3 linked regions of the Homo sapiens genome follow. The protein of the gene in region 2 interacts with the protein of the main gene of each other region in a pairwise test. Each region holds a gene or a part of one and is shown on either strand. Other genes may lie near its edges. The genes, in order: VGLL3, CTRC and GIPC2.

Region 1 (8,037 bases), on a different chromosome or scaffold from region 2:
GGGAAATTAGTTGACAGATACACTACTACAATTGAATACAGAAGTAATATAAAACTTTAATGCTGTCTTTTCTAGCATTTTTTAAATGGCTATTAAAATTTCTTGATTGCTGTTACTTTTCTTCGCTCCTTTTCCATTTTTTCCTTCTCCAAAAATCAATTTTTCAAATTCAGTAGGAGTTGTAGCCCTTACTTTTGTCTCCCAGGCAAGATGCTATTAGGGGTCACTTCCCATGTACGGAGAAAACAATCTTCATGGATAATAATGATAAAACCTTATGGAATGCAAAAACAACCAAAATATGTATTCTCGGATGACTGCATTAGGGCCAAGTCAATATTAGTCCCACTTCACCCACGCATTGCATAGTCTAAAAATGCTGTCAGCCTGATAAGAATTTCCTGATTTACTCTCTTTTCCAATAGAAAATGTAGGTCATCAAAATAAACTTCTGACACTAAAAGAACAGTAGTTACACTGTCAAGTCTTTTTTTTTTTATTTCGTTAGCCAGTTATGGTCAAACAGTTTCTTTACTTGACCAAAAAAAAAAAAAAAAAAAAAAAAAAAAAAAAAAAAAAAAAAAAAGAAGAAGAAGAAGGAGAAGAAAAAGAAGAAAAAGCAACATGAAAATTTCCAAGCACCTCCCTATGGCTCACTCAGCCTAACATCTAGTTAAGCAATGTCTACAAAAGCCCAAAATATAGAAGTTGATCATTATGTAACCAATCAATGTAGATAAATTGTTTTCTTTTTAAGAAGCTCAATGGTCAGAGTTTTCCTGATTTTTATTTTATTTTATTTTTTACTTTTTAAAATTGTTGTCTTCAGTATGTTGACGGTTTTAGCAAAAGAAATGAATTTGGGGACCGAGTCTCAGGGCTATTGCAAACATTATATAAAGTACTGGAGTCATTTCTTATTGAAAACTTTTATGATTGGCAATTTGCCATTTTCTCTGATACCGAATGTTATTTTCTAGCTCAAAAAAAAGTGTTACAGTATTAACTCCACACCACAGATTCATTAATTTCACAACCCTAAAAAATAAAGCCATATTTGAAACAACTTCTACTAGTTTGTTATTTTATAAAGGAGGAAAGTATCTTTCTGAACATGTAGAGAAGTTTTAGTTTGTTGCTCATCCACATTCCAAATGATAATTGAAGACCTCTGTAATATCAGAGATGCTTTGAAATGCTGGTGCTGCTGAATATTTTTTTTAAGAGGATAGCAAGAAAGTAGGGCTCCTTCCTCTTTTGCCCTAATTGGTTCTGGTTAAGCTGGTACTATTTAGCAGATGAATCTGGGGCATGTACCCTTCCAGAATTAGCTGAATTTCATAGTTCCTAAATTCTAAACGGAAAGTTAGATTTCTTTCTAAAGAGTAGCACTGTAATTCTAGCAAAGAGACAGAAGTAGAGGAAATACAGAAAGTAAAATGTCAGATTAATTAACAGCCCAAACCTAAGAAGGTTTGCAATAAAACATGTGGTACCTAAGAAAGTAAAAAGAAATAAATCAATATATTCTATGGATGGTAATTTCCTAACCAAATCTAGTTATTTTTTTTAAGTTTCTCCAAATCCGCCCACCCTAATTCCCATAGTCTGAGGTGGACTCTATTTTGGTACAGCCCTTGCCACATACATTTTTTATTTTAATGTAGCACTAACTAAGCCTTGGCACACTCTCCGTTGTATCCAGAGAGTAATGTCCAAGGGCGCCTCGTGCCAAATTCCCCAGAACTCTACTGTTCCTTCTAAAGTAACTATATCATCTCCTCAGTTCACGACCCCTTATTATGGACATCTTCAGTTACTCTTGGAAGAGTGGAGACTCAGCATCCAGAGATTCAAGGTAACCTTTTGGCCGAGGGACCCACTGTCAACAGACTGAACACGTACAAACTCTGTGCTTTGCTGGAATTAAAAAATGAATGAAGAACCTTGGAATCCATCCCTGTCCTCTAAGTCACAGTCACCGGGAGAAAGATTCTGTGGAGAAGTTCTAGTAACACCCGATAGACATTATGCTAGACCAGTGTTCCCCCATGAAAGTCCCAGATCATTTCGTGAACTCACTCTCCAGGTAGCTTCCCCTACCTCTGTCAGCGCACTTCATCTTCCTCATCAATAAAACCCTGAAACATTCCATCTTTCCAAATAAACAAAATAGTTGGTTGAAAGGAAGTTTACTCACATGGTCCTAAGATAGATGCCCTTGGTGAGCTTCAGAGAACTGAGTCCTAAGAGCTAGGGTGCCTAGGAGGAGCAGCCTCTGAGCTCCGGTGACCACAGCTCAATGAAGCCCCCAGCTAGGTCATGCCTCACCCACCCGTCCACCCTGCTGCTCTCCCTTCCCGGCTCTCTCGGGATGGCTTTCTGCTCAAGGACGCTCCCGCAGATCCCAGAGCATCCTCTGCGCCACGCGTGCCGGCGGGACGTCGCCGAGCCCCAGACCGATACTCTCGATGCCCTTCGCCCCCGCCCCCAGCAGGCTGCCCGTCCGGTGACTCACCTGCTGGCCAGGTTGGGGCGCCGGCTGATAGTAGGCTGTGGGGCAGGTTGTCGCTGCCATGGGGTTGGGCAGATACTGGGACGCTCCATAAGGCTGGGGGTGATACATCACCTCCGCACAACTCATGGCAGCCGGGGCAGTGGCGGCCCCCGAGCTGCCGCCGCCGCTCTACGCGCTGGCGCGAGGGGCGCGGGCGCCGCCGCCGCCGCAGCTGCCGCCTCTGTCGCTGCTCCAGCTGCTACTGCGGCGAAGGCGGGTCCTCGGCGGCCTCGGGCTCCGCGCGGGGCGCGGGGTCGGGAGGGACTGGCAATCAGCGGGGGCCCATGCGCGGGCACCTTCATCTTCAGCCCCTCCGGATGTTCCCTGCCGCGCTTATATAGCGGCTCAGGGACGCAGCCGCCCGCTGCGCCGCTGGGGCATTACCGCGTCCGGCTCCCGCGAGGGCTGCGGCGCCCACGGCAGCGCCAGTCACAGCCACAGCCCAGGCCCGGGTCGGGCAGCCGTGGGGAGCCCAGCTCCGGTTTGCATATACACAATGCACGCCCGGGGCTCGTCCTATCACGGGTGCTCCCGGCTGTGCGAGGACAGGGAGGCGGGGGCAGAGGGAGGGGGAACGCCGGGGAGAAGGGGGAGCACTTTGCCTCCCCAGGCTCTGACGCGGAACTTTGCAAAGTTTCTCCAACTCGCTTTGCAGCGGGCGGGTCACCCTGCAGGGGGACCCCGGGGAAGGCTGGCTGCGGATTGGAGCGAAGTTTGCAGCCCTCTCCGCCTCCCAGCATGGGATGGTGGTGGGAGGGGAATGGTATGCAGAGGCTCCGCGCCCTCAAGGCTCGGCAGGTTCCCACCCTGTCTCTGTCACCTGGCCGCCAGGGCGAGGGCTTCCCTACTCCAAGGAGATTTTACAGGGAACACCAACTCAGAGGCTGGGACCAAACAAAAGCCGAGTGTACAAAGGGGTAAAACAGAGCAGGCGCAGAATACACGGGGATTAGCTCCTACATTAAAATAATCATAAGTGAAAGTTAACATCTCTGCAAGTGCCCACATGCCAAGAATGCAACACAGTTTTCCACAAGCAATCTCTGCTTTAAGTTTACATCTTCATGGTATGACACTGCTGTGAGACGTCCACCATTTCTGGCTTTTACAGCCTGGTTTTCACAGAGCAATAAAGGGTAGTTGATTAAGCCCATTCGCTAATAAAGGTTTATCTCTTTGCAATTGGATCTGACCCTCTCCAAAATGGGGAAAAAAACGTCTGTGAGAATATACTTGTATTCTGACATAATCAGTAGAAATAATTATACTCACATTATTTTATTTATTTTGAGATAGGGTTTCCTTCTGCCGCCCAAGCTAGAGTACAGTGACATGAGCACAGCTCACTGCAGCTACCACCCCCACGCTCAAGAGATCCTCCCATCTCAGCCTCTGGAGTAGCTGGGACTACAGGCGTGCATTACCACGCCCAGGTAATTTTTTTAATTTTTTTTTTTATAGAGAAGGGGTCTTGCTATGTTACCTAGGCTGGTCTCCAACTCCTGGCCTCAAGTGATCCTTCTGCCTCGGTCTCCCAAAGTGCTGGGATAACAGGCATGAGGCACCGCACTGGGCCTCATTTTATAAATGAGCAAACTCTAGCTCTGAGATTCAGCAAACATATCTCTCCTTATACGTAGGCATCCTCTTTTATGACTCACAGCAATCTCTCATTTTTACAGTCTATCTTTTCTCAGAGAAAAAGTCAGTTTGAAAGTCAAATGCACTAATGTTTTTATAGTTTGAATTATGTCTTCCCAAAAATGTATATATTGAAGCCCTAACCCACAATATGGCTGTATTTGAAGACAGGACATATAAGGAGGTGATAAGGTTAAATGAGATTTAAAAGGTTGGGCCCTAATCTAATAGGACTAGGTTCCTTATAAGAAGAGAAAACACGCCAGAGATATCTATGTCTCCCCCAAACCCCACTCCCTGTCTCTCTGCTCTGTCAAAGAGGAAAGACCATCTGAAGTCATAGTGAGTTACCTACAAGCCAAGAAGAAAGGTCTCACCTTGAAACCAACACTGACCACACCTTATCTTGTGCTTCTATCCTCCAGAACTATGAAAAAATTAACTTTTTTTTTTTTTTTTTTTTTTTGAGACGGAGTATCGCTCTGTTGCCCAGGCTGGAGTGCAATGTCACGATCTCGGCTCACTGCAACCTCCTCCCGGTTCAAGTGATTCTTCCGCCCCAGCCTCCCGAGTAGCTGGGATTACAGGCACCCGCCATCATGCCCGGCTAATTTTTGTACTTTTGTAGAGACAGGGTTTCACCATGTTGGCCAGGATGATCTTGAACTCCTGACTTCAGGTGATCCGCCCACCTCGGCCTCCCAAAGTACTGGGATTACAGGCGTGAGCCACGGTATGCCCAGCTTAATTTGTTTTTTTAGGCCACCTAGTTTGTGGTATTTATGACAGCCCTAGCACACTAATGCAGATATACAGTTATCATATATCGTTAATGTTTACATAAGTGTCTGTGTGTATGTCTAGGTACACAGATACATACACATGTATAAACACACAGGCATACACACACACACTGACACTATAAAAATTGGATAGGAACTTTTTGCTACGCCGCAACAGCTTTTATTCAATCATTTTATCACTGAATATTAAAAACATATTTATTAAGGGTTTGCACAGTTCTTGGACTTTAAATTGTGCTCTTTGTAGTACAAGAGTATTTCCAGCAATAATATGTTTCATAATTTACTTTAAACGTTTATTATTGTCTTTTCCCAAATTGACCTCCTTTGATCAGATCCCTTCCTGTGTTCCAGATTTATCTATTCAGTTCTTTCTAGGTAGCTCCACATAGGTGTTACATAAGGACCTCAATCCTAATAGTACTGATTGTCTCATGTCCCCAGTTTGATCCTCTTTTTTAATCTTCATCTCTACTGAAACTCCCCCACTACCAGTTGTCCCAGCTAGAAATGTGGGAATCTTCTGGCACTCCTTCCTTCTCCTCACAGTCCCCACACCTGGTCTTGGAGTCAAGTTGACCCCAAATTTTCCATTTCTACTGACTCTCTCCTTATCTCTGTTGCTATAATCGTTAGTTTGCTCGGCATCTCTCACTCAGACTCCTGCAAGAGACTCTTAGTGATTTCCGGGTCCCAAGGCGAGACTTCTTCCTGTTCTTCATAGTTTATACTACTCTTTAATGACCCAGCCACTGCAAATCCAACTGTGCAATGATGATTCATTCTTCTTTTAAAAATTTCACAGTCACATCCCGCAGTCTGTAGAAACAACTCTTTAACCTTCAGATTCTGATCCCTGCCCATGTCACTACCTCCTGCAAATGTTTACCAGCTATCTGAATTGAGATCTGCATTCTGCGAAGAAGCCGTGGTACTTTCTACCAGCATGTCATTTTACATATGAGCAGAGCATTTGCACCAACACATCCCTCACCCTCTTCACTTGTTAACTCCTTCTTGCTCTTCATGTAATTGTCTTCCAAAACATCCGATGAGGATCAGCTTTAATGCTCCTATTTTCACCAGCTCTTGTTCTTTTAAGAATACGCTCCCATCATACTAATAATTAACTACTTGATTTGAAGTTGCTTATTTGCTTGTTTCCCCAATATGACCATGGCTGCTTGAGAGGAGAGACTGTGACTTTTATCTCTAAATTTCACTAAATTTCAATCATATGATATCTGGCTTAGTAAATATTCTTTGAATAAGTAAAGTATATAATAGGAGGAGAAACAAAAACTATTAGAATAACTTACAAATTCTTGGTGGGATCTGAGCACATATAAAATCAGTGAAGCTATAATGTAGAATATGATTTCAAACTCTGTCTTAGGCTTTCTGCTGTATGTTAGATTGAGAAAATCCTTATGATGTTAAAAAAAAATAGGACCTAGAATATAAAGTGACTGAATTAGGACACAGAGCAAATTTGTGAGGACAGCCACTTCTCAATGCCAAACCTCCTGTTCAAATGTTTAATGCCTCCAACTTTTTTCAAATAACTTTTATCTGTAGTTGATTTTTTTGTACAATTATGAGTTTAATATCTGTCTTTTTAGCTAGACTTTGGCAGAGGTTATTTATATCTTGTTCATCTCCATATCTAACACTTCGAAGACATTCTATATATATTTTCCAAATGATAAAATAAAGCCAGAACTTGATTCAACATGTCCATACCCCTCATTGCTGCATCTTCCGTGCTCCCTATGGCCTCTAGTGCAAATATTTATTCTATGACAAAAAAAAGTTATTTGGTACTAATACGTCATGGACACAAAAGTCTGTAGGTGTTTGGCAAAATCTTCCTACAATGCAATATCTTTTTTGATACCTTTCTTTGTTTCTATATTGTGTACTGCTGGAAGAAGATAAGAGAGTAAAGATTAATTCTACCTAGACTTAGAATCTACAGAAGTGGACAGAGAGAGAAAATAGCTTGTCAAAGCCTGCAGTCTTAGTGAGGTCATTAATAAAAATTCCGATAATTCATGTTAGGGAAATCTACATTTGAGTTCTAGTAGGAAAGCAGATGTACCTGACTTCCCCTGGGTAACTATTTAGGGTTTTAAAGTGGAAAATAATAAAAAGGATCATCAAGCTTAAAACATCCTTTTTCATAGATAAGTAAATATATGATCTGATTAATGTCTTCTAGGGAACTAGTGGCAGAACTAAAACCAAAGTCCTGTTTCTCTTGACTCTTGATTTAGTTCTCTTTCCATAATTGCATAATAAAGATATATAAACAAATACATATGCATATGTATATGCATACATACATTATACATGTGTGTACATATTCCTAGATATTACTTATGTATGTGTGTATATATATATTATATATATAATATATATTATACATATATTATATATAATATATATAATATATATTATATATAATATATATATAATATATATTATATATAATATATATATATACACACACACACACACACACACACATACATATACAAAGGAAGAAGTTTTTGATCAGATCGTCCTTGGGTCAACTTGGAGTTGAAGAAGAGGAGTGTGTGTATGGGGTGGGGATGCGGGCCAATTGCATTTAGCAAGAGTGAGTCACTCAGATCAGAGAATGTGATCTGACCGCTGGTGTACTCATTGTCGTCTCTGCTATGTAAGGGTGTCACAATTACTTGGAAAAAGCAGCAATGGTATGGAATTTAATTCTATGTAGTTCTGAGCTAAAGTTCCTCAAAGTTTACCCTTCTTTGATTTATCCTTTTACACTACTCCACCGCTTTTCTGGTTCAATTCTGATGTGGTACCTGATCTAAATAAATGGACTTAAACATTTCCAACTCTTCTGAATTGTGACTTTACAGTCACTACATTTTTGCCCCCACCACCAAATTTCTCAAAATGTTTGTTTCCAAATTCTCCAACTGGAAATTAGTGAGGTGAACCACCCCCCGCCTCTAGTTTTATTTGGAGGGATAACTTGAAGTG
Region 2 (7,391 bases):
GATCATAGCTTACTGCAGCCTCAAATTCCTGGCCTCAAGTAGTCCTCCCACCTCAGCCTCTAGAGTATCTGGGACTACAGGCATGTGCCACCACACCCAGGTAATTTTTTAAATTCTTTTAGAGTCAGGGGTCTCGCCATGTTGCCCAGGCTGGTCTTGAACTCTTGGCCTCAAGGGATCCTCTCACCTCAGCCTCCTGAGTAGCTGGGATTACAGGCACGAGCCACCATGCCCAGCCAGTTTTTAATATTTTTTAAATGGAGAAAGGGGCCCATGAAGGCAAAAGTACTCAGTGACCAAGTCCAGTCTCAAGCTTTCTCATAAGAACCAGATAACAACAATAATAATAGTAATAGCAAACATTTAGACCGTCCTTGCCATATGCCAGGCACTTCTTCCAACAGCCCTAGGAGGGAGGTACCATTTTCTTTCTTTTTCTTTTTATTTTTTTGAGACGGAGTCTTGCTCAGTCACCCAGGCTGGAGTGCAATGGCACGACCTCGGCTCACTGCAACCTCCGCCTCCCGGGTTCAGGCAATTCTCCTGCCTCAGCCTCCCGAGTAGCTGGGATTATAGGCACCCACCATCATGCCCGGCTAATTTTTGTATTTTTGTACAGACAGGGTTTCACCATGTTGGCCAGGCTGGTCTTGAACTCCCGACCTCAGGTGATCTGCCCACCTCAGCCTCCCAGAGTGCTGGGATTACAGGCATGAGCCACCGTGCCCGGCCAAAGGTACCGTTTTCACTCTCACTTTATAAACGAGGAAGCACAGAGAGGTTGCGTCACAAGCATAAGGCCATAGAGCTATGAAGCAATAGTGGTGGGTTTAGTTCAACCCTAAGCAAAGCACTCAACATCCTGTCTTCAGCATCTGAAACAGATTAAGGGCGACCTCGGTTTTCTCCAGGGACAATTGTTTGGTGCTGCCTTACATAAAAGGTCCCTCCCTGTAGATGTCTCAAAACAAGCAAGTTTCCCTATAGCTGAGCAGCCAGCAACCTCCCTCCAAAAAGGTCAGTTTCTCTGTGAACCTTCAAAGAGCTGACAATAACTCTCTTCACCTGGGACCTCATCATCAATCCATTTGGCTATTTCTATGTTTGTGTACATGTTTGAATGGGTGGCCCATGGCTCTGCTTGGCTCTACACATAACCGAATGCTTTATATGTATTATATCATTGGTGTGTGCATATTTGTGGACGTGGAGGAGCGTGTGTGTGCATGTGTGTGTGTGCGTGTGTGCATGTGTGCATATGTGTGTGTATGTTTGTGTGTGCATGTGTGCGCGTGGGTGTGTGCATTGTGTGCATGTGTGTGTGCGTGTGTGTCCATGTGTTTGTGTGCGTGTGTGCATGTGTGCATGTGTGTGCATGTGTGTGTGCATGTGTGTGTGCGTGTGTGTGTATGTGCGTGTGTGCGTCGCCTGTCCACGTATACTTGTGAATCCATGGGCATGTATACACAGCTGAGATGCGTGCTAACAAGTTGCTGTATCTCTGAGTATAAATTGATGAGCTCCTACAAGGAGACGCCCAGTTAATTCATTTTCCCAAGTTGATCAAGGGACATGAGAGAAACTGAGGCTCAAAGAGGTTGCTCAGGGTCTGGGTCATCCATTCTGTCACTGAGATGGAAACCAGGTGTCCTGTCTCCCCGCTTCAGACCCTGCTAATTTCCAAGACCTATCACCTAGCTCAAGCCATATCTCTGCTTATGTTCCCAGTTTCCAGGCTAGAATGACCCTTTGCAAGGCTTGGCAACCAAAAGCCCTGGGTCTGAAGCAGACTGGCCAGTAGCCACTGATAAACCTGTATCATGCACAACCAACCTCCAAAATGAAACAGAAAATTCCCCGCAGGCTGAAGTCCCCAGACACCCCAGGACTGAGGCCTTGATGTCACCATAGCTGAGCAGAGCCCCCAGTGCACATTCCCACTTTTATCTTTCTTAAAAAATTAAACCTATTGATTTTTATACTACCAAGGTAACTATGTTTGTTTTAAAAAAGAATTTAAGCTGCATAAAAATGTGTAGTTAGAGGCCAGGCATGGTGGCTCACACCTGTAATCCTAGCACTTTGGGAGGCCTATGTGAGTGGATCACTTGAGGTCAGGAGTTCGAGACCAGCCTGGCCAACGTGGTGAAACCCCGTCTCTACAAAAGGAACAAAAATTAGCCAGTGGCACTGGTCCCGGCTACTCAGGAGACTAAGTAAGGTAGGAGAATTGCTTGAACCTGGGAGGCAGAGGTTGCAGTGAGCCAAGATCGCACCACTGCACTCCAGCCTGGGCGACAGAGCGAGACTCCAACTCCATCTCAAAAAATAAATAAATAAATAAACAAACCAGCCTGGCCAACATGGTGAAATCCGGTCTCCACTAAAAATACAAAAATTAGCCGGGCATGGTGGTGGACATCTATAATCCCAGCTACTCGCGAGGCTGAGGAAGCAGAATTGCTTGAACCCAGGGGTGGAGGTTGCAGTGAGCTGAGATCGCACCACTGCACTCCAGCCTGGGCCACAGAGCAAGACTCTCAAAAAAAAAAAGTGTAAGTTAGAATCCTCCTTCACCCCCAGATCACCGCTATGAATGGCGGGGTGCGTAGTGCTCTGAACTTTTCTATCAGGAAGGAATTCCTAAGGTGGCCAGTAGGCCCAGCTCAGAAAATGACCTTCAAGGGGAGCTCAGTATGAGTAGAGGGGAAACGAAAGACAGAATCTAACCAACCAGGCTGAGGCCAGGCCTTGGGGCGAATGGATCAAACCACATGTTCCAAGGGATGGCCAACCCCGAATGCCGGAGGCTCTGGTAGAATTTCTGCTACTCAGTGCTTTGGGCCCTCAGATCTGCCACTGACCTTGACATTCAAGTTACAGAATTGTAGAACTGAAAGGAGCCTGAAAGTCCATCTGGTCCTTTTGCCCATTTTAGAGATGGGGAAACTGAGGACCTACAACTAAGCTGACTCCAGGAAGGAATCTGGCCAACTAAGCACCTTCCAGAGCCTGCTGCATCCCTGCCTCCAACCACAGCCCTGGAGGCAGGTGCAGGAGTGCATCAAGCCCAGGCAATTAGAAAGATGAGACAGAGAGAGAGCCAGGAAGCGATCCAATAGCACTAGAAAGGCAGAGAAGGAGCAGCATGTCTCCACAGCTTGAAGCCCCAGGCTGGTGTTAGAAGCTTTGGCTTCAAAGTCTGGCTCTGCTGCTGCCCAGCCGTGTGACCCTAGATGGTCACTTACCCGCTGAGTCTCAGCTTCCTCACTTTTATTTTATTTTTTTAGAGACAAGGTCTTGTTCTGTCACCCGCGCTGGAATGCAGTGTGGCACGATCACGGCTCACTGCAGCCTCGAACTCCTGGGCTCAAGCGATCCTCCTACCTTGGCCTCAGGAGTAGCTGGGACTACAGGCATGCACCACTGCGCCTGGTCCTTTCTCATCTCACCTCAGAGCAGATAACCGCGTCTATTTCATGTTGTTGGAAGAATTAAGTGAGATAATGCAAGAAGAATTGAGCGCAATGCCTGACACACAGTAGGTGCCCAATAAATAACTAAAAAGAATAAGGTAACGGCCTGTAATCACACCTGTAATCCTAGCACTTTGGGAGGCTGAGGTAGGCAGATTGCCTAAGCTCAGGAGTTCAAGACCACCCTAGGCAACAGGGTGAAACCCTGTCTCTACTAAAATACAAAAAAAAAAAAAAAAAAAAAATGGTGGCACACATCTGTAGTCCCAGCTACTTGGGAGGCTGAGACAGGAGAATCGCTTGAACTCGGGAGGCGGAGGTTGTAGTGAGCTGAGACTCCAGCCTGGGTGACAGAGCAAGATCCTGTCTCAAAAAAATAAATAAAATACAAAAGATTAACCTGGCGTGGTGGCAGGCGCCTGTAGTCCCAGCTACACAGGGGGCTAAGGCACGAGAATCGTTTGAGCCCGGGAGGTGGAGGTTGCAGTGAGCTGAGACTGTGCCACTGCATTTCAGCCTGGGCAACAGAGCAAGACTCCATCTCCAAATAAATAAATAAATAGTATAAGGTAGGGAGAGAGAATGAACACACACGTCAAACAGAGTGGGGTGGGGGATGCCAAAAAGCACTGCAACTCAGAATTTTCTGTTTCAGGATATTTGGAAAATCCATACTTCTAAGAAAGCCCTGTCTCCTGCCCAAATTAAACAGTAACCACCCAAGGTCAGGGAAAGGGCCTTATCAGAGCAGGTTTCTCTCCAAGGGGCGGTTTGGCCTTGACCAGGTGCACTCACCTGCTCCTGCCTATAAGTGTGCCCCAGCCCATCCCGATGGTCAGCCAGTCCTGAGCACCTAACCATGTTGGGCATCACTGTCCTCGCTGCGCTCTTGGCCTGTGGTAAGCGGTGGGGTGGGGCTGCAGCTAGCAGGCTGTGAGCTCGGGCTGGCCTCCAGGGCAAGGACGGGATGGGGAGTGGGGGGGCCTCTGCTCTCCAGGTAAGACACTTTGGGGTCCCCTGTGGGTTCAGATGCTACCAACCAGCTGTGTGTCAGACAAGCCACAGCCTGCCTGCCAACTCTGTTTCCACATCTGCAAAACAGGGAAGATGATCTGACGTGTCCCCAGTTAGAAATGAGGTGTGGAAAGCACCACGCAAGGGGGAGGGACACGAGATGCCTCATCCTGGGTTCACCCCAGGGACCATCGGGGTCTGCCTTTCCCAGCATTCTCTCTCCCTTGAGGATTCTCCATTCCATCATTTTGGTGGCGTTTTCCCAGATTAGGAGCCCAGGGACTTAGCTTAAATGCCACTTCTTCTCTGCAGGACCTGGAAAAGTCATTTCACCTCTCTAAATCTCACTAACTTTTTTGGCAAAGGAGAGCACTTAATGAAGAGTCCTTCCAGCTAACAACAACAACAGTAATAATAGCAGCTCCTGTTTCCTGTGTGTTTACTATGTGCCAGACGCTATGCTAGGCCCCTTACATGTAGGAGCCAATTTAATCCTCAAAACAACCTTAAGAGGTAGGGTCTATTGCCAGGCATGGTGGCTCACGCCTGTAATCCCAGCACTTTGGGAGGCCGAGGTGGGTGGATCACTTGAGATCAGGAGTTTGAGACCAGTCTGGCCAACAAGATGAAACCCCGTTTCTACTAAAAATACAAAAATTAGCCAGGCGTGGTGGCGGGCACCTGTAATCCCAACTACTCAGAAGGCTGAGGCAGGAGAATTGCTTGAACCCAGGAGGAGGTTGCAGTGAGCCGAGATCGCGCCATCAAACTCCAGCCTGGGCAACAAGAGTGAAACTCCGTCTCAAAAAAAAAAAAAAAAGAAAAAGAAAGAAAAAGAGGTAGGGTCTTTTCATAGCCCCATTTTACAGATGAGGACATCGAGGTTCCGTGCGACTTAGTATCTTGCCTGACATCACATGGCAGGTTAGTGGAAGAGGCAGAATTTGAGTCCACGTCTGTCTCGCGGAACAGCACGTGTTCTTGACCGCTCCACACAGCTTCCCAGCTATAACAGTGGATTTACTGCTCTCTCACACACACACCATGATGCAGGGGCCTAAAAACAGACAGAAGAACACAGGTGTACCGGGCACTCGCACACATGCCAGCCAGTTTTGTTTTGTTTTGTTTTGTTTTTTGAGATGGAGTTTTGCTCTTATCACCCAGGATGGAGTGCAATGGCACGATCTCGGCTCACTGCAACCTCCATCTCCCAGGCTCAAGCGATTCTCCTGCCTCAGCCTCCTGAGTGGCTGGGATTACAGGCATGCACCACCACGCCTGGCTAATTTCTGTATTTTTAGTAGAGACAGGGTTTCGCCATGTTGGCCAGGCTGGTGTCAAACCCCTGATCTCAAGCGATCCACCCGCCTTGGCCACCCAAAGTGCTGGGATTACAGGTGTGAGCCACCGTGCCCGGCCAAACGCTTTCTTTTTTATGTGTTGTCTAATTCAGTTCTCAGGGCAAACTCACCGCATTAGTGTGATTCTTCACATTTCACAGAAAGGGAAAACAAGGCCTAGAGACCTGGGTGGCTTACCCCCGTGACACAGTAAAATATCAACCCCGTGTCTGCCCAGCCCCAACTCTGTGCTTCTTCCACCTGCCCACCCTCCCACCCCTTTCCCCGTGGGCTACCAGCCCTATTCACTGGTTCTTCTGGCCTCCTGTCTCCCCAGCCTCCAGCTGTGGGGTGCCCAGCTTCCCGCCCAACCTATCCGCCCGAGTGGTGGGAGGAGAGGATGCCCGGCCCCACAGCTGGCCCTGGCAGGTAAGCCTGTGTAGGGCTGGGAGGTACAGATAGAGAGGGTGGCGGGGTGAGGGTCCCAGGGACCTGCAGGCTGACACACAGCCCTCCCCACCCTCCTGCAGATCTCCCTCCAGTACCTCAAGAACGACACGTGGAGGCATACGTGTGGCGGGACTTTGATTGCTAGCAACTTCGTCCTCACTGCCGCCCACTGCATCAGGTGTGCGGGGATGATACCCTGAGACCTGGCCATCGTCCGGGGGCGGAAGCCTGATACTCTGCTTTTTCTGAGCAGCTTCTCCGCACTCCAGGCACTGGGCTACATAATCTACTCACACCCAGTAACTCAGTTGTGCATTTAGTCAGTCAAGTATTCATTGTGCATCTATTATGTGCCAGGAACCAGCAGTGAAGACAAAGTCTGTGCTCTCGGGAAGCTTATATTTTTGTGGAAGACAGAGCGGCAGACAATTAAACAAATATATAGCATCTCAGGTGATTTAAAATAATACTAATAATAAGGTATTGGCCAGGAGCAGTGGCTCACGCCTGTAATCATAGCACTCTGGGAGGCCGACGCAGGCGGATCACCTGAGGTCAGGAGTTCGAGACCAGCCTGGTCAACATAGTGAAACCCCGTCTCTACCGAAAATACAAAAATTAGCCAGGCGTGGTGGCGGGCACCTGTAATCCCAGCTACTCGGGAGGCTGAGGTAGGAGAATCACTTGAACACGGGAGGCAGAGGTTGCAATGAGCCGAGATGGCGCCACTGCACTCTAGCCTGGGCAACAGAGTGAGACTCTGTCTCAAAAAAATAAAAAATAAAAATAAGGTCAGAAGAGGACAAACAGAATGAGGGGTTCAGTTTTAAAAGGGATGGCCAGGGGAAGAGCTGAAAGGGGGATATTTGGCAAATATTTGGGACATTTCGGAGAGCTAAAAGGGGGTTATTTGGGCAAAGGCCTGAAGGAAGTGAGGGAGGAAATCATGGATCTAGGAGAAGGGTGTTCCAGGCGGAGGGAACAGCCATGCAAAGCCTTGGAGGAGAGACCTGTCAGTATGGTTGAGAAATAACGCGGAAGCCGGTGTGGCAGGGGCAGCGTGTGCTAGAGGAGAGTGGGAGGTGAGCTAGAGAGGAAATAAGTGCAG
Region 3 (7,000 bases), about 63 Mb from region 2:
CAGATAAAGAGAACAATGCATAAAGGTCATAGAGAACGGAAAATACTTTCGTTTTCTAAACAGGCCATGGAAGGTGTCTGCCATTTACGTTCCCCTAAATCAAGATGTCTCAGAATATCTACCATGTGCATAGCTCTCTCCTGCAGGACTCCTTATCCACTGCTCACCTACCTCTGTACCACATGACCCTGTAGGCTGGAGCAGAGATGAACCTGACCCACAGGCCCAAGGGTCCTGTCCCACCTGTGCTGTACCCTGACACAACAAAGACTCTTTCTTAGGAAGTTTAATAAGATACACAGGCAGGGCACAGAAAGTAGAGAGGTAAAGAAACACAAAGACACAGTGGGGTGAGGTAATAATGGGAGGAGCAAAGTCAAGAGGATGAGAAGAAAGAATCAGTCAAAAGTAGAATAAGCAGGGAGAGAGAGAGGCTGAGATGGAAGGTTAAGGACAACTAGACTTGCTCTCAGTTCTCTACAGTATAAAGCTACTGCTTTAACCTGAACAGAATGAGCAACGTTCCAACTGTCCATGGAACCTGACTGTGCAGCTGCAGAAGCTGTCCTAAGCTTCCTTACCTCCCTATACATTTTAATATAAATATTTATATGGACTGAACATGTGTGTGTCCCCAAGCCTAATCCCCCACCTCCTACCAGGTGACGGTATTTGGAGGTGGGGTCTTTGGGAGGTGACTGGGTCATGAGGGTCAAGCCTTCAGGAATAGGATTAGTGCCTGCATAGAAGAGGCCCTAGAGAGAGCTCCCTTTCCCCTTCTGTTACATGAGGATGCAACAAGATGGCTGTCTATGAACCAGGAAGTGGGCTCCCACAAGATACCACATGGCCGGCACATCAATCTAGGACTTCCCAGTCAATAAATTTTTGTTGTTTAGAAGCAACTCAGTTTTTGATAGTCTGTTACAGCAGCCAGACAGACATATACATACATACAAATTGCCCAAGATAACCTGCAAGAGCCTTCCACTCCACTCAGGGTAGCTGGGTTGGTGATTGCAGGTGGGAGAATGTGAAGGGGCTGGCTATTAACCTACAGGTAGCCAGGGTTTGAAGAGGAGTCTACCCCTGCCCAAGGGTGTAAACTTTATTTTAGGGTTGTTCAGATATCTTCTTCAGGGTACTTCTAGCACAACAGCAGTCTTATCCATTTCATACCCTCCTGACAGCAATGAGGTCTATAAGGCAGCTGGTTGGATTCTCCTCCCACTTCTCAAAATGAGTCATGTTTTTCTTGCCTGAATTTTTCATATAAAAATGAGGCTGGTGCTCAGGAGGGGATATCAAGCCTACATAATGACTGTGATATATTTATAACTTCTCAGATGGTATGATGTAAATCCAGAAAATACCATTATATTCCATTTAAACTGAATATTATTTAGAAAGAAAATACAGAGAATGAATGGTTGAGTGTGCTTCTACTTTGTAAAATATGTGTCAGGGATCCTTGCTTCTTCCGAAAAAGATCTGAGTTATTCTCATTGCCTACAGAATAAAATCCATACAACTTCAAGGACATTTGTAGTCTTACTACTATCTATATCCTCAGCTTTCTCTCCTACTATATCCATTATCTACTTTTATTTAGTAAACTTTTAAGGAGCAGCTAAACCATCTAGCTAACCATCTAAGAACAAGATTTAAAAAGGAAAAAAGTCCCAGCCCTCAGGAAGAAACAGAGGAGTAACTAAATTCAATCTTATGTGCAAATGCTATGTTAAAAATCATGCAATAGCAGGTATCCAGATTTCTGGATTCACAGGGTAGGCTTCTTGGAGGAAATTACAGGACTAGAAAAGTGAGTAGGAGTTACTGGAACAAAGAACAGCATGAGAAAAAGCACAATGGAATGAAACAGTTAAATATTGTTGAATGTAAAGGGGATTATTAAGAAGTGAGATTGGAACAGTGGGCATAGGAGAGGACTCAAGAGGCAGACAGGAATATGAGACATTGTTTGGCTGGTAGTAATTGGTTTGTAAGTAATGAGGAGCCCCTTGCAGGTTTTTGTTTGTTTAGACAGTCTTGCTCTGTTGCCCAGGCTGGAGTGTAGCAGCACAATCATAGCTCACTGCAGCCTCAAACTCCGGCTTGAGTGATCCTCCCACCTCAGCCTCCTGAATACTGGGACTACAGGTACGTACCACCACCTCTGGCTAATTTTTTTTTTTTTGGCTTTTTTTTTTTTTTTTTTTTAAGAGGCAGGGTACCACTATGTTGCCCAGGCTGTTGTCAATCAAACTCCTGGCTTCAAGGATTCTCCCTTCTCAGCCTTCCAAAGTGCTAAGATTAGACTGGTATGATCACAGCATTAAAATACTAAAAGAGGATGAGTGGAGTCAGGGAAACCAAATTCAGGCTGCCTCTTTAGAATCTGCATTGTAATAACCCAACAGTGACAAGTGACAACTGCCAACACCTTCCAGGCAAAGACCACCAGGGATTCTCACCTGCAGTTTATTGCTCCTTGTGAGGAGGGTGACAGCACTCTATGGGAAATCCTGGGGGTTTCAGAAAGAGACATTACAAAGGATTTGGGCTTGTGTTAGGTGATTTGGGAGAGGGTCCAAAGCATGGGTTTGTTCTGGATAGGGTGCTGTCAGGAAATGGGTGCAATTCTATGACCAGGAATCTTAGTAAACCTATCTGTAAGGTAGGAGAAATTACCACAGTCAGAGCAGTCTTATCTGCTGTTGACATGCTGTGCAATTGTTTATGTGCAACAGAATGCCAAGGCCTTCCTGCAAGTGCCAAGGCCCCTACCAGATGTCAGGGACTGCTTCTCACACTTTTTCTACTCAATTTTGACGGGCTTACTTCATATTCCTCAGACCTCAATAGTAATATTCACACCCAATTCCCAATTCTTTCATTTTTTGTAGATTTTTGTAACTTGTTTTTCCAGGGCAGGGGGTGCTATATGCAAATCAGTAAAACCCTATTTTCTCTATTCGTCCTAGTTTCCCATTTGTGAACCAGAAAGATAACAGTTCCACTTGCCAGTTATTTGCACTGCTGGGAAATGATAAAGTCTGCAGAACATTTCATGTCTTCTAGAAGTACCACATAAATACAGAATATTGACTTTCAAAAGAGCTCAGTGCTAGTGTCAGCAAGTTGAGAAAAGGAAGCAGCTTCTGGGAAGCCTCAGGAAGCAGCTCCTCATATGCTGTAACTCATTTAGGAAGTGACTATGCTTGCAAACAGAGCCTCAAATTTCATAGTTTCTAAGATGGATATATTAATTAGCTTGACTGTAATAATTATTTCACTATTTATATCAAAACATCGTGTTGTATACCTTAAATATATACATTTATTTTCAAAAAATTTTAAAGATATGAGTGATGTTCCTCACTACCCCCACCTAAAGGCTAGTCTCTTTCCTCATAGCAGAACATAAAAAAAATTAACACCTACATAAGATATTAGTATTGTAATCAATACTAAAGCTTTATGCTAAAGACACTAGGTTTTAACTACTGAATTGGTGAGGATCCTTTTATTCAACAACTATTTTTTAAACTCCAACTATAATATGTTTCAGGCAAAGTCTAGGCCCTTGAGGGCCACATCAGTAAACAAAGACAAAAATCCTTGCCTTTGTGGAGCTTCTATTGGGGCAAGGGGGCAGACCATAAACAAAATAAGTTAAATATACATAGGATAGTATGCTACGGAGAAAAATTAAGCAGAGAAGGGAACAGGGAGTGTTGCACCTAGAGATGATCAGTGCTAGCCTCACCAAGAAGATGACATTTGAACAGACTTAAGGAAGGGCATTCTGTAGGAAGAGGTTCTGGCGGAGGCAAAAACCAATGCAAAAGTCTTAAGGCTCCAGCATTCAAGGAGACCAGTCTGGCTGGAGCAGAAGGAACAACGATTCTGAAGAGGTAACAGAGCCCGTAGCCCATCATAGTATTTTGGTTTGTTCCAAGTGAGAGGGGAAGCCATGAAAGGTTTAGAGCAGAAAATGAGATACAAATTGTATCTCAGAGACAGCAACTTTTGAAGAGTTTTGCTAAAAAGGAGAAATGAGGTGGTAATACAGGGGATGGGAACAGGTGTCAAAAGAAGGTTTGTCTGTTTAAGAGAAATAACAGCATGCTTGTGAGGATAAAATCTCACCTTAAAAATCACAATTCTACGCCAGGTGCGGTGGCTCATGCCTGTAATCCTAGCACTTTGGGAGGCCGAGGCAGGCAGATCACCTGAGGTCAGGAGTTCAAGACAGGCCAACATGGCAAAACCCCGTCTCTACTAAAAATACAAAAATTAGCTGGGCATGGTGGCATGCACCTGTAGTCCCAGCTACTCAGGAGGCTGAGGCAGGAGAATCACTTGAACCCGGGAGGCAGAGGTTGCAGTGAGCCGAGATCACACCACTGCACTCCAGCCTGGCAACAGAGTGAGACTCCATTTCAAAAAAAAAAGAATAACACTTCTTGCCTTTTCTGCTTCTCAAGTACTCTGCTTTCTTTGACTGCTTTATGTATGGGGAGAGAATAAGTCACTGAATTACTCATTTATTATTCAATGAACTATTTGGTATCTAATATCACACGCAAACTAATCTAAACAAGTAAAAGGAAGTAATTTCTGAATTCTGCAGAGAAACTGCATCTGAATTTCCAGTTTCTGGACATGTAAAATTTCTAACTATAAAATTTATCTTTTTTTTGTTAATAATATTTCTTTGTTATTCTTTTAATGTCCAAGGATCAATAATGATGACATCATTTCTTTTTTTTTTTACATTTTACAAAATGAATGTATTGAGCAAAGTGGGGTTCTTTTTTTTATTATACGTCTTTTCTTAAGTTTTCACATTCATTATTTTTTCCTACAATATTTCCACATAATAGAGAATTAGGAAAATATATCATGGTAAAAACTACTTGCCAAACAATTACAGTAGTCAAATATTCAAAATGCCCCTTCAACAAAATGTATGACCATAGCTCGAGAGTTTCATGTAACCTGGATATTTTAAAAGATGGTATGTATTGGCCGGACACGGTGGCTCACGCCTGTAATCTCAGCACTTTGGGAGGCTGAGGCGGGCAGATCACAAGGTCAGGAGATCGAGACAATCCTGGCTAACACAGTGAAACCCTGCCTCTACTAAAAATACAAAAAATTAGCCGGGCATGGTGGCAGGCACCTGTAGTCCTAGCTACTCAGGAGGTTGAGGCAGGACAATGGCATGAACCCAGGAGGCGGAGCTTGTAGTGAGCTGAGATAGCACCACTGCACTCCAGCCTGGGCGACAGAGCGAGACTCCCGTCACAAAAAAAAGAAAAAAAAAAAAAGATGGTATGTATTAAACTTTCTCAAGAAGAGTCTTTGCATTTATGTAGGAGTTAATTGTTCTTTAGATGAGATTAATTTACAGGGTTTTTTTTCTTTTTACTGAATTGTTCATTTAATTGTTTTGAAAAAAGGCATCAGATATGAGGGATTTTTGCATAACTGGCCATCTGTCTCAACTTAATAACAAATCTTAACTGATTCACAGCCTTCATTAGCTTATTCCTTCAGGGACCACAAAACACTAGCTGAAGTCCACAACTGTCAGTCTCACATCAACATCTTTTTGAGGCAATAAATATTTTTGTGGTTAAGTCTGAGGCTTTTATTGAAAAAAAAAATTTGTTTACAAAAGACGTTTTTCCAGGTTAGTGTTTAGAATTTGAATGCAGCTACCAAGAATCTCACAGCTGCTATGTAATAGACTTGGAACCGGCCAGGTGCAGTAGCTCACGTCGGTAATCCCAGCTCACTTTGGGAGGCCGAGGTGGGCGGATCACCTGAGGTCAGGAGTTTGAGACCAGCCTGGCCAACATGGTGAAACCCCATCTCTACAAAAACACAAAAATTATCCAGGCATGATGGCGTGTGCCTGTAATCCCAGCTATTCAGGAGGCTGAGGCAGGAGGATCACTTGAACACAGAAGGCGGAGGTTGCAGTGAGCCACGATCACACCGTTGCACTTCAACCTGGGCGACAGAGCTAGACTCCATCTCAAAAAAAAAAAAAAAAAAAAAGAGGTTTTTCTGGGTTCGTATTTGGAATTTGAATGCAGCTACCAAGAATCTCACAGCTGCTATGTAATAGACTTAGAACCAGGAAACCAGAATTCAAATCCTGGCTCAGCCACATACCAGCCTATTTAACTTCTCAGAGTCTCACTTCACTAAATTGTAAAATGAAAAGATTCTGGTGAGGATGGAGTGAACACACTGTAGGCTTACAGGCCTAGCACAGCTGTGGGCACATTATGGGCCCTGATTATCTGCTCCACTTGACATCAAGTCTTTTCCCTTTCTCCTCAATAAAGAGTGGCTAGCTCTTCATGTAGTGCTATTTATATCCTTACAGCCACCACTCTAGAAAAAAGGCAGGACTTCTGAGTTAACTATCTATTCAATCCCATTAAGGGGGGCAAATGTTTTTGTCCCCACTGACATCTCAAAAGTTATTTACATCACAGGGCTGGGCGTGGTGGTTCACGCACTTTGGGAGGCCGAGGCGGGCAGATCACCTGAGGTCAGGATATCAATTCAAGACCAGCCTGGCCAACATGGTGAAACCCCGTCTCTACTAAAAACACAAAAATTAGCCAGGCATGGTGGTGCATAATCCCAGCTATTAGGCAAGCTGAGGCAGGACAATCACTTGAACCCAGGAGGTGGAGGTTTCAGTCAGCCAAGATCGTGCCACTGCACTCCAGCCTGGGCGACAGAACAAGACACCATCTCAAAAAACAAAAACCAACCAAAAAAAGTTGTTTACATCATTATTGCTGAGGTAATTGCTTGCTGGGGAAATGGGCTATGAAAATGGAATCTCCTTGGTGTGCATTTCATTTTAGTGAGTTACTTCTGTTTCAGAGTGAACCACTGAAATATTATGCGTACTATGCTATGATGACCAATACTTTATTCTGCATATAATTAACTTTTTCTAATCCAG

What was found.
Region 1: the proteins of CTRC (region 2) and VGLL3 interact in binary tests that used the Homo sapiens proteins (3 or more experiments, as listed by UniProt).
Region 3: the proteins of CTRC (region 2) and GIPC2 interact in binary tests that used the Homo sapiens proteins (3 or more experiments, as listed by UniProt).

The regions. Positions count from the first base shown.
Region 1 is NC_000003.12:86,988,100-86,996,136, forward strand, and holds the start of VGLL3 (transcription cofactor vestigial-like protein 3), read right to left. Parts: upstream 3,051-8,037; 5' UTR 2,645-3,050; coding exon 2,519-2,644; intron 1-2,518. UniProt on the Homo sapiens protein: May act as a specific coactivator for the mammalian TEFs.
Region 2 is NC_000001.11:15,434,130-15,441,520, forward strand, and holds the start of CTRC (chymotrypsin-C preproprotein), read left to right. Parts: upstream 1-4,313; 5' UTR 4,314-4,335; coding exon 4,336-4,375; intron 4,376-6,170; coding exon 6,171-6,262; intron 6,263-6,363; coding exon 6,364-6,461; intron 6,462-7,391.
Region 3 is NC_000001.11:78,048,966-78,055,965, reverse strand, and holds part of GIPC2 (PDZ domain-containing protein GIPC2), read right to left. Parts: intron 1-7,000.